Linked DNA regions of Homo sapiens: regions 1, 3 and 4 are each linked to region 2. Evidence: fine-mapped expression QTL. A gene starts in region 2. Each other region holds a variant in brackets. All regions are shown on one strand. Distances are from middle to middle. Region 1 has its middle 5.9 kb from the start of SSTR3. Region 2 holds the start of C1QTNF6 (C1q and TNF related 6). Region 3 holds the start of SSTR3 (somatostatin receptor 3). Region 4 has its middle 11 kb from the start of RAC2.

Region 1 (2,684 bases), 30 kb after region 2:
GCCTCAGCCTCCCAAAGTGCTGGGATTACAGGCGTGAGCCACCGCGCCTGGCCTCCTCTCTCATTTTGATGTAGCATAGCTCCCAGTAACTTTCAGAGAAGGTGTGCATGTTTCAAAATAGTGAATTCCCCTCTCACACATGTTGATAGGTAGGCTAGGTATAGAATTTGAGATTGAGAATGACTCTGACTCAGCTGATGGAAGGCGTCTGTCGGTGTCTCCAGCTTCCAGCACAATTCTTAATCCCAATCCATTGTGTAACTTAAGCTAATTTTTTTATTATTATTATTCTGGAATCTTCTAGGATCTTTGCTTTATCCTTAAATTTCTGAAAATTTTATAACAAGATTTGATTCTTTTTTCATTTGTCTTCGGGGGCACCAAGTAGCCTTTTAATCTGAAGATTTGTGTTCTTCAGTTCTGAGACACATTTTTCTGTTATTTCCTTCTGTAACTCCTATTATATTTGAATATTGGGTCTCCTGGATGAAATCTTTATTCTTCTTGTTGCTCATCTTTATAATTTTGTTCTACTTCCTGGGAGGTTTAAAAAAATCTGTTTTTCTCTTCCAGTCCCTCTTTTTTTAAATCAACCTATTTTTCATTTCCAAGAGCTCTCTCCTGTTTTTTATTTTATTTTTTTGTTTGTTTGTTTGTGTTTTTTGAGACAGACAGTCTCGCTCTCTCACTCTGTCACCCAGGCTGGAGTGCAGTGGCACAATCTCAGCTCATTGCAACCTCCGCCTCCTGGGTTCAAGTGATTCTTCTGCCTCAGCCTCCTGAGTAGCTGGGATTACAGGCACATGCCACCACACCCAGCTAATTTTTGTAATTTTAGTAGAGACAGGGTTTCACCATGTTGGTCAGGCTAGTCTCAAACTCCTGGCCTCAAGCAATCCATCCACCTCGGCCTCCCAAATTGCTGGGATTACAGGAATGAGCTACTGAGCCCAACCAGCTCTCTCCTGATTTCTGCCTGCTCTTTGCTATGGCATTCTGTACTCATTTGTGGATATATGTTTCCTTATCTCTTCAAGGATGGCAATGATGGTTTTGTCAAAATTTTCTTCTGCTCACTGCATCATCTTTATTGCTTACTGATATTCCTTTTCTTCTACTTATTTGATTGGGTCTCTTTCATTTATCATTTGGGGCAATGCTATCATTAGAGCCTTCTTCAACCAGTCATCCTGTGTTAGCCACTCCTGTTTCAGAATGAGGCATTAAGCCCG[G/A]GCATGGTGGCTCACACCTGTAATCCCAGCACTTTGGGAAGCTAAGGCAGGAGGATCACCTGGGGTGGGAGTTCGAGACCAGCCTGACCAACGTGGAGAAACCCCGTCTCTACTAAAAATACAAAATTAGCCTGGCGTGGTGGCGCATGCCTGTAATCCCAGCTACTCAGGAGGCTGAGGCAGGAGAATCGCTTGAACCCAGGAGGTGGAGGTTGTCATCCCAGTAGCCACAGCAAGTCACATGGCCAAGCCCAGCATCAGGGGAGAGGGGAAACACGCCCCTCCCATAGAGGGTGTGTCAATCTCTCTCTGGAGCATGGTAGGAGTGATGGGTAGGGAGGGTAGGAGTGGAGGAGTGATTATTTGCAAGGCATCATCGAATTGACATCTCCAAAAGCATTGTGGTGCCTCACCCCCACTCTGCCCTGTAGCGAATGTCTCTGGGTCCAGAGAACTCTGGCTGAATACTCCTTGCTGGGGTTAGGGAGGGGTGGGTGCCTGACCACGTAATGGAAAAGAGAAGACCTGGGGTGGTGCTGGGGGATCTCACTCCTCCTAAGCAGACTTCCACACAACCCCTGTTTTCAGCCTCCTGCCTCACCATCCATGATGTCTGGGTTCCCTAATTCTAAGCCTCCCCAGGGTTCTGCAAGACCAGGTGATTTGCATCTTTTCTGTCTCCAAAGCCCCTACTCCACCCCACCATGTAGCAGCAGGCACTTAGGTTTGCCTTCCTCAGCTCTGTTCAATCATTTACCACCCTCCATCTGCTCTTGCTGCTCATACATTGTGGTTTGGGGTTACAGGTGTCTCCTGGCTTCTTTGAAGGTGGGAGTTTGTGTTTCTGTTTCTTGTTCTCCTTCTTGTCGTGGCTGCTTTTCAGCGAGGAGGTGGGGGTGGAAACATCTCTACCCTAGCGCCTTGAGACGAGAGTCTCTTCCTTTCTGTATTGAATATATTTCTGTGATCTGTGGATCAAGCCACATGGTGGATGTCTATTTACACGTCTGTCTCTCCCACTGGCTTCTGAGCTGCTGGTGCGCAAGGGGCTGTGCCTCACCCCTCTCTGCACCTCCAGCTCCTGCCACAGCTTGGTGTGAAGCACATAGTTAATAGGTGGGAACTGTATTGAATTTTGGATTCTGCAAAAAACTGCTCATTTTACCTTCCTTGAGGTCCTCTCCGGAAGCCTTCTAGGGATATCCTGGATCTGCCTCTCCCTCTCCGGGACCTGTCCTGCTCTGCCTCCCATATCATGTGAGAGCTGGATGGAGTCAGATGTCCCCAAATGTCAGTATCTCTCTGGAGCGTGGTAGGAATGGTGGGTAGAGAGGAGAGGTCAGAGATCGGAGGAGCAGATAACGAAGAGTCTAGACTCCAAAAAGTCAAGGTTTCAGTATCAGTACCTGTGTCACAAACCACCCCAAAATGTAGTGGCTTACAATAGCCATG
Region 2 (2,684 bases):
TAAAACTAAAAATAAATAAAGCGGCAGGAGCCCTGCCCCCCACCCCCAGAGCTGGATGGTAGCAGCAGGAGAAGGGGGCTGGACAGGAAGTCTCCAGAGCCACCTCCCTCTTCCTGGAGGTGACTCTTCCCAAGCTTCTCTCTGCCCACCCTGGTTGGGTTCCTGGTTCTGCTCAATAAGGAGGTCAAATCCTCAGAGATCAACATCCTCCCTGTCTGAGACTGTCATCCTCAACTTTTACTTATAAATGACAAATCCCAGTGGTTTTGGAAATCCCAAAATTCCCTTCTTTTTCCCAGCCACAGATATGACCTCATGAGAAAAGCTGAGGTCTTAGAGTCAAATCTGAGACCCAGAATAGTTTGCAAGCTGTGTGACCTAGGGCTAGTGGCTGAACCTCTCTGGGCTTCCTGCTCCTTGATACTTACAAGGAAATGACACCACCCTTTCCCTCCCAGGTAATTTGGAAGGATTTCAATGCAGGAAAAGTGCCTGCCTTATAAAAGACTTAAAAAAAAAAAAAAAAGTGTGCTTTGACTTCTTCCCTGTGCCTGCATGGGATGGGAAGGAGAACTTCTCCCAGAGGACTGGCATGGTTTGGGAGCATTTCTGTTTCCTATTGGCCCCAGCGGATGGGAGTCAAAGGCTGTGAGACACAGAACCGTGGCCTGGGAGCAGGAATCAGGAAGCCGTTAACGAGGAATCATAACCACAGCCAGGATCACGAACTAGCTCTGGGGGTGGGTGCCAGGCAGGGACCAAGTGTGGGAACCAAGTCATAGGGAGGACTTTTGGGGTCCTTGCTGCTTCCACTGGGACCTCTTTGGGGAGGGAGCGGCAGGGCAACTTTTCTCGGTCCAGGCAGGCCGTGCAGAGCTGAGTTTGTGTGTGCCCGGGTAGGGGCGGGCACAAACCGGGAGCAGTGGAGCGCAGCCCTCAGCCAGAGGCAGGAGGAAATGTGGAGGGGAGAGCCTGGAGAGGCTGTCCCAGTCAGAGGGAGAGAGCAGGGCCCGAGATGCTTCCAGGAAGCAAGGAGGGAGGAGAGGAATTCCAGGCTCTGACCCCAGCCCCCAAGCTTGAGGAGCCTCTGGTCACTCACCCTGTGTCCTGTGGCCTCCCCAGGCGACTCACGGACCCTGAGCCACTGCATGGCCTCTGGCTCCTTGGCCCATGTCTGCAATACTAACTTGTTGCTGGCCCAGACCCCCAGGCCCAGCAGAGGAGGGAGAGAGGAGGGGATGGAGGGAGAGAGGGCGGAGGGAGGGCGGAGGGAGAGGGCAGAGCCGCTTCCCACTTCCCCTCCTCCCTGCTCCCTCCCTTTCAGCCTCTGGGTTCTGCGGAGATAAAGGGAGGCAGGGATTTCCTTTGCTTAACTCTTTGGTGATCCAGTGGGGTCTTGCTTGATTCAAAGGCCTAGAAAGTCAGAGCAGGCAGGAGTCTGAGGCCCCCTGATGATTGGGAAATGGACACAGGCATGGGGCACAGGAGCCCCTAGGTTGCTCAGGAAGGGGGAGGCAGCCCTGAGTCCACCCTGAGCTAAAGTGCTTAACTGCTCTGAGTCACAGAGGCAGGGTGGGTAGCAGAGAAGGTGCAGGTGTTGGCCCTCCAGGCACAGGCTAGAATCCTGGCCCTGCTACCACAGTCGCGTCGCCTCTCAGAGCCTAGGTGTTCCAGAACTGCAGTCCTCAGCCCCCTTTGTGCCAGGCACATGGGAGGGCTTAACCCATGTTTGTTGGGTGAATGACCAGGCTGACCTCCTCAGGTATCATGCAAGTGTTACCAGAGAGGGGTACTGATCAGACCCCAAGAGAGAATTCTTGGATCTTGCACCAGAAAGAATTTGGGGTAAGTCCACAGAGCAAAGTGAAAGCAAGTTTATTAGAGAAGCAAAGAAACAAAAGAATGGCTACTCCATAGGCAGAGCACCCCCAAGCACTGCTAGTTGGCTATTTTTATAGTTATTTCTTGATCCTATGCTAAACAGGGGTGGATTATTCATGAGTTTTCCAGGAAAGGGGTGGGAATTTCCTGAAACTGAGGCTTCCTCCCCCTTTTAGACAATATAGGGTAATTTCCGGACATTGCCATGGTATTTGTAGGCTGTCTTGGTGCTGGTAGAAGTGTGTTTTAGCAAGCTAACACATTTTAATTAACATACAATGAGCAATAAGGATGACCAGATGTCACTTTCATTGCAATCTTAGATTTGGCAGGTTTTGGCTGGTTTGTTTACCGCATACTGTTTCTCAGCAGGGTCTTGATGACCTGTATCTTGTGATACCAGTCCTGCCAACTTCCTATCCCTTCCTGTGACTACAAATGCCTGACCTCCTGGGAATGCAGCCTGGCAGGTCTTAGCCTCATTTTACCCAGCCCCTATTCAAGATGGAGTTGCCCTATTTTGAACACCTCTGACATATTTCCCTACTCTCTTTTACGAGGGAACGTTTAATCTTAAGGGTTGTAGAGGCATGAAGATCCATCTTCTGTAACTTCTTCAGGCTGAATAGAGGCGATGATATTCCTGCCTAACTATTAGAGTCTCTTGGGTTTGGTGCAGAGAGGAACTGAGTAAGAAAATGTTGGTGTGTTCAGAGTCATTTGTAACTCTGAGTCCTAACAAAAGGTGATATCTGGAAGATTAATGTGTTCAATTTAAGGAAGCACTGAGTAAGCTTATCTTG
Region 3 (2,684 bases), 25 kb after region 2:
CTTCCAGGACCCCACCCTTCGGGACATCATCCGGGCCCCAGCCTCCTTACCTGCCCATGGGGTGAGGGCTTCCCTCCTTGCCGCCAGGCTGGTTATCATTCTGCTGTCCCCTCTCCCTGCCCAGTCCCCAGGTGCCCCCAGGGCACTCCTAACTAGGGTCCCCACAAGGCACCCACTTCTAGACCGCTTGCGGGCTCAGGTTCCCTCCCAGGCCCTCGGCCACGGCTGTCCACAGAGCCTCTCCCATCTGGTCTCCGGCCCTGACTTCCCAACCAGAGCCTGGTACGTCACCCCCCATCTCCAGGACACATCCTGGGGGGGCAGGGGCAAGGATAGGGGGGAGAAGCTTCCCAGGGTGAGGAAGAGAAGAGGGGAGCAAGGGACACAGAAGCCAATAGAAATAGAGGGGAAAGGGGGTCGGGAGGAGGTGGAGAAAGAGAGAGAGAGAGAAAGAGGGAGGGGGAGAGAGAGAGAGGGAGAGGGAGAGGAGACCGTGAGTAGGAGGAAAGGCAGAATGAGGGGGAGTGATGAGAGATGCGTGACAGGGAGAAGACGAGAAGGAAAGAGAGGAGAGGAGACACGGGTGAGAGGGAGAGATGCAGAGAGAGGCAGGAGGGAGGAAGGAGAATGAGGGGGTGGCAGGGAGAGTGACAGAGAGGGACTGTGCCACAGATGGTGACATGGAGCCCGTGAAGGAGGGAGTAAGCAGGGAGGGGCTGAGGGCCGGAGAGCAGGTGTGGGGGGTGGGGGCGGGGTGCAGGTTAAGGGAGGAGGCCCGGAGAGGGAGCAGGAGGGGCGCAGACCCTGTTACCGGGGAGATTTCAGCCACCCACGCCCGCTGGCCTTGGCTCCTGCAGGGAGTTGGAGAGAAGAATGTGCTCAGTGCTCAGGGGAGCCGAGGCTGCCAGCCAGTAGCCAGAGCAGCTCGTGAGGCCACTGCGGCACAGGTCCCCCGGGGCAGCAGCTGTGTCCCAAGGCAAGGCTGGGTGTGGGGCTGGCCAGCCCGGGAGTCCACAGTCCAGCCCTGCAGTCGGGCACACCGGCCGCAGCACGGACCACTGGGGAGGCCGGGTGGGGGTCATTAGTCCTGGGATTGGTTACATCTGGAGAGCCCCAGGCAGGGTGAGGAGTGGAAGGACAGAACAGAGAACCAATATTTTAGGCTTTGAGGGCAAAATCATTGTGCAGTGAGAAAACAGATTTTTACTATTTTGTAACTGACAAAACTCAAAATAGAATAATAATAATTGAGGCCAGTATTTTGTAATGTAGGTCCACTCATGAGAAGAATAGAGTTCTTTTTACAGACATCACCTTTTGCTTAATTGGAGTTTAGAGTTAGTGTTTCATCAAACCGATTGCAAATGTTCATCCGTAAAAACCATTCTCAGCTCCTAGGCTGTACAAAAACAGGCAGTGGGTGGGATTTGCCCCGTGGGCCATATTTACTGATCTTTGGTCTAAGAGACTCTGCCGTAC[A/G]GTCCTGAGCACAGGCCCAGATGTCTTGGGATGCCGTGCCCCTGCCTGTGCTGATTCCTGCCTCAGCACAGGAGTGATAAGGAAAGGAACAGTCAGAGACGGAAGGGAAAAGGACACACGTCTTGGCTGAGCACCTACTATGTGCCAGGCTGTACCTAGGCTGCTTTCCAAACTGGGCCATTCCCTGGGACCAGGGCTGGACCTCCTTTGTCACTAGGTACCTGGCACTGCAGAGAACTGGAAGTTGAATGCATCCAGAGGTGCCACCATGCATGCGGCAGCACACAGTAGGACACACCCACTTCCAGCCGGAGCCGGCCTGGTCTCTTAACGCTGCCCGTCCCTTTGCCTTGTGCCCGGGACAAGGCCCTTGCTCCAGGTCTCAGCCTCCCATTGTCCTTGTCCGTACAAGTTCATGAGGTGTGGGTGGGCTCCTGGGAGCGTGTCCTCAGGGTCAAGGGTGGGTTTTCCATGGCACTGACCACCCACCCCTACCCACGGCTTCTCACTGCCCTCAGAATAAAGCTCTCTCGCCGCAGCCCACCTGGCACTGCATCCTTGATTCCTGCCGCCTGCGCGGGCCTCCTCCTCTGCTGATTTCACTCGCTCCTCTGTGCCCCAGGCGTACCCAGCCTCATGTATTCATTCACTTATTCCTGCAGGTTGGGGTATAGGGGCTGAAGACTGGACAGGGGAGTTTGAGCCCCAGCTCTACCCCTGCCGTGCACTGAACTTAAACTTCGGTTTTCTCCTTCAGTAGATTGTACACACCTGACTGCCTGGCCTGGGGGTTCTTGCGAAGGTTAAAGGAGTGAATGCTCATCAGTGTGCCCCCTGCCACACACCTCCCCAGCACCGAGCCTTACTGCTCCAGCCTGGAACCCGTCCACTGCTCTCCATCCACAGGCTCCCGTCTGAGCCAGGCCACTGAAGGGGTTCAGGACACGCCACCCCAGAATACACCACTCTGGCATATTGATTTCTCTGCACTAAAGGCACTTCAGAAACAGCAGGTGCAGAAAGGGGGCTCTGACCTCCCCTTTTCTTCCTGAAAGCAGGAGCTAAAACGCCTTGTGAAAGACGCCCTCCCTATGCCAGGAGGAGGAAAGACATTACCAGATAAGGAGAGTCGAGGCCAAAAGAAATCTGTATGAACAGATCTTTTAATCCTTATCTTCCTAGTTACACAATTGCCATTCTATGTT
Region 4 (2,684 bases), 67 kb after region 2:
ATCTCCTGACCTCGTGATCTGCCCGCCTCGGCCTCCCAAAGTGCTGGGATTACAGGCGTGAGCCACCGCGCCCAGCCAGTTTGGATAATATTACATTATCTCTCCCTTAAATATTTTATAAAATTTATAAAGCCATCTGTATCTGGACCTGGTTTCAGAATTATGGGGGAGAGGGGGAAGAGGGGTAGATTTTAAACTACTAATTCAATTTCTTTAAGGGGTATAGGACTATTTGGAATTCCTTTTTTTTTTTTTTTTTTTTGAGACAGAGTCTTACTCTGTCACCTAGGCTGGAGTGCAGTGGTGTGATCTCAGCTCTCTGCCACCTCCACCTCCTGGGTTCCAGTGATTCTCATGCCTCAGCCTCGCAAGTAGCTGGGACTACAGGCAGGCACCACTAGGCCCGGCTAATTTTTTATTTTTAGTAGAGATGAGGTTTCACCATATTGGTCAAGATGGTCTCCTGAGCTCAAGCAATCTGCCCACCTTGACCTCCCAAAGTGCTGGGATTATAGGCATGAACCACCGCGCCCGGCCACTATTACTTCTTGAGTCATGCTTTAGATATTTTTCTGGAAAGTTGCCCATTTTGCTTGGGTTTTCAAATTCATTAGTGTAAAGCTATTCATAGTATTATTTTATATCTTTTGAATCTCTCCTCTCTAATTTCTGTTATCTCCCTTTTTTTATCCTATATTGATTATTTATGCCTTCAAACTTTGTTCTTAATCAATTGCTCCCCAGTTTCATTAATTTTACTCACCTTTTCAAAGAGCCAAATTTTGGTCTTGTTAATCCTTTCTACTATACATTTGTTTCCCATTTAATTAATTTCTATTCTTATCTTTATTGTTTCTTTTCTTTCTTTTGCTTTGTTCTGATGTTCTTACTTTACTTCTTAGTTTTGAATGCTTAGTTCATGAATTTTTAGTCTTATTTTGTTCCTAATACAAGTTCTTAAGGCAATACTACTTTAGCATTGCTT[T/C]TAATTGTGGTAAAATAGACATAACATAAAATTTACCACAACCCACAGTTTTAATATGTAATATTTTATTATGTTTTAGTTCTAAACATTTTTCAACTTTCATTACGATTTCCGTTCTGCTCAATGAGTCATTTGAAAGTGCATTGTTAATTTCCAAGAGTTGGGGAAAGAGGCTGTTATCTTGTTCTCTTACCTCGTGATACTGCAGACAAAGAATACAGACGGTGTCACACTGACTCCTTTTAATGTGTTGAGACTTGCTCTATGACCTACTGTGAGTGTTATTTTCATAAATGTGTATATATTCAGTGTTCCCTATGTGTCTAATAAATCAAAGGTGTTCATTGCATTGTTTAGATCTTTCGTATCATTACAAATAAATTTATATTTACCTTGCTTATATTTATCAGCTCTTGAGAAAAGTATGTTAAATCTCCCACTATGGTGGTGAATTTGTCAATTCTACTTGTAATTCTGTCACTTTTTATTTTTGTTTTTAAACCCTTAGGTTATGTCATCAAATGCATGCAACTTTAGAATTATCAGATCATGCTAAAATTTTTAATCTTATTGAAATAGCAGCCAACATTTTAAAAATCTTTACTATATTCCAAGATCTGACACAGACCTAGCACTCAGTAAAATGTGGTAGAAATAAGAAAAAGAAAGAAAGAGAGAGAGAGAATGAATGAAAAGAGAGAAGAAAGAAAAGAGGAAGAAGAAAGAAAGAAAGAAAGGGAGGGAGGGAAGGAAAGAAAGAAAGAAAAAGAGACAGAAAGAAAGAAGGAAGAAAGGAGGGAAGGAAGGATGAGAGAGAGAGAAAGAAAAAGAGAGAAAGAAAGAGAGAGAGAAAGAAAAAGAGAAAGAGAGAAGGAAGAAAGGAGGGAAGGAAGGATGAGAGAGAGAGAAAGAAAAGGGAGGGAGGGAAGGAAGGAAGGGAGGAAAGTAGAGTGAGAGAGAAAGAGAAAGAAAGAGAGAGAGAGAAAGACAGAAAGAAAAAAGAAAGAAAGAAAAGAGAGGAAGGGAGGGAAGGAAGAAAGGAGGGAGGGAGGGAGACAGAGAGAGAGAAAGAAAGAGAGAGAGAGAAAGAGAGAGAGAGAGAAAGAAAGAAAACATTGAGGGGATGCCTAGGGTGTCCCTGGCTGGCACCCTGGAGTCAGAGCTGGGGAACATTTGCGTCCAGGTCCACTCTGCCTTGGGGGTCATCCTGTGTTCAGTGTCACAAGCAAGAGAGGTGACAGGGAGGGCTGGCAGCTCTGGGCAGTCCCCAGGTGCTGGAGTTGAGTCCCCAGCCTGACAGGGTTTTCCCAGAGTGGCTCTGAGGTCAAATTCCGAGGAGCTGATGGAACTCCCACTGACTGCCCCCCACCCGATCCCCAAACCCAGCTCCCTGGGCTGACCGCCCTGGGCCACTCTTCAGTTCCAGTCACCTCCCTACCTCTAGGAGAGGATTTTCTCTTCGAAGATCCCCCATGAAGAATGCGGGTCCCTCTCTCCATCAGGGACTTTCCTGATGAGAAAACCAGCATTCTGCCCCCAGAGCCAGGCTCTGTGCCCCAGACACACCCAGATACCAAACAGAACCAAGCTCCCACTGCCCCACACCTCAGGTCCCAGGAGGCCCTCCCAGCGGGCCCCACAGGCCACTCTCTAACTGACGGGCTGATGAGAGCTGCCCCTCCCATCCTTGAGCAGGTAC

The links. PIP is the estimated chance that this variant, and not a neighbour inherited with it, causes the effect.
Region 1: its variant is fine-mapped to the expression of C1QTNF6 in blood mononuclear cells (TOPMed, PIP 0.96).
Region 3: its variant is fine-mapped to the expression of C1QTNF6 in whole blood (INTERVAL, PIP 0.98).
Region 4: its variant is fine-mapped to the expression of C1QTNF6 in whole blood (INTERVAL, PIP above 0.99).

The regions. Positions count from the first base shown.
Region 1 is chr22:37,217,048-37,219,731 of GRCh38, forward strand. It overlaps a transcript of SSTR3 not described here. Among named protein-coding and RNA genes, the nearest start is that of SSTR3, 5.9 kb to the left of the region's middle. RefSeq lists enhancers at 1,610-1,709, 1,740-1,909, 2,060-2,279. The variant G/A (reference allele first, on the strand shown) is at 1,233.
Region 2 is chr22:37,187,064-37,189,747 of GRCh38, forward strand. C1QTNF6 (C1q and TNF related 6) reads right to left here and starts at 1,184. Exons shown (of 3, transcript NM_031910.4): 1 at 1,100-1,184. The coding sequence starts at 1,150. RefSeq lists enhancers at 288-923, 924-1,557, 1,558-2,193, 2,194-2,684.
Region 3 is chr22:37,211,775-37,214,458 of GRCh38, forward strand. It overlaps SSTR3 (somatostatin receptor 3), which reads right to left and starts at 703. Exons shown (of 2, transcript NM_001051.5): 1 at 51-703. RefSeq lists an enhancer at 1-521. The variant A/G (reference allele first, on the strand shown) is at 1,480.
Region 4 is chr22:37,253,884-37,256,567 of GRCh38, forward strand. No RefSeq gene overlaps it. Among named protein-coding and RNA genes, the nearest start is that of RAC2, 11 kb to the left of the region's middle. The variant T/C (reference allele first, on the strand shown) is at 986.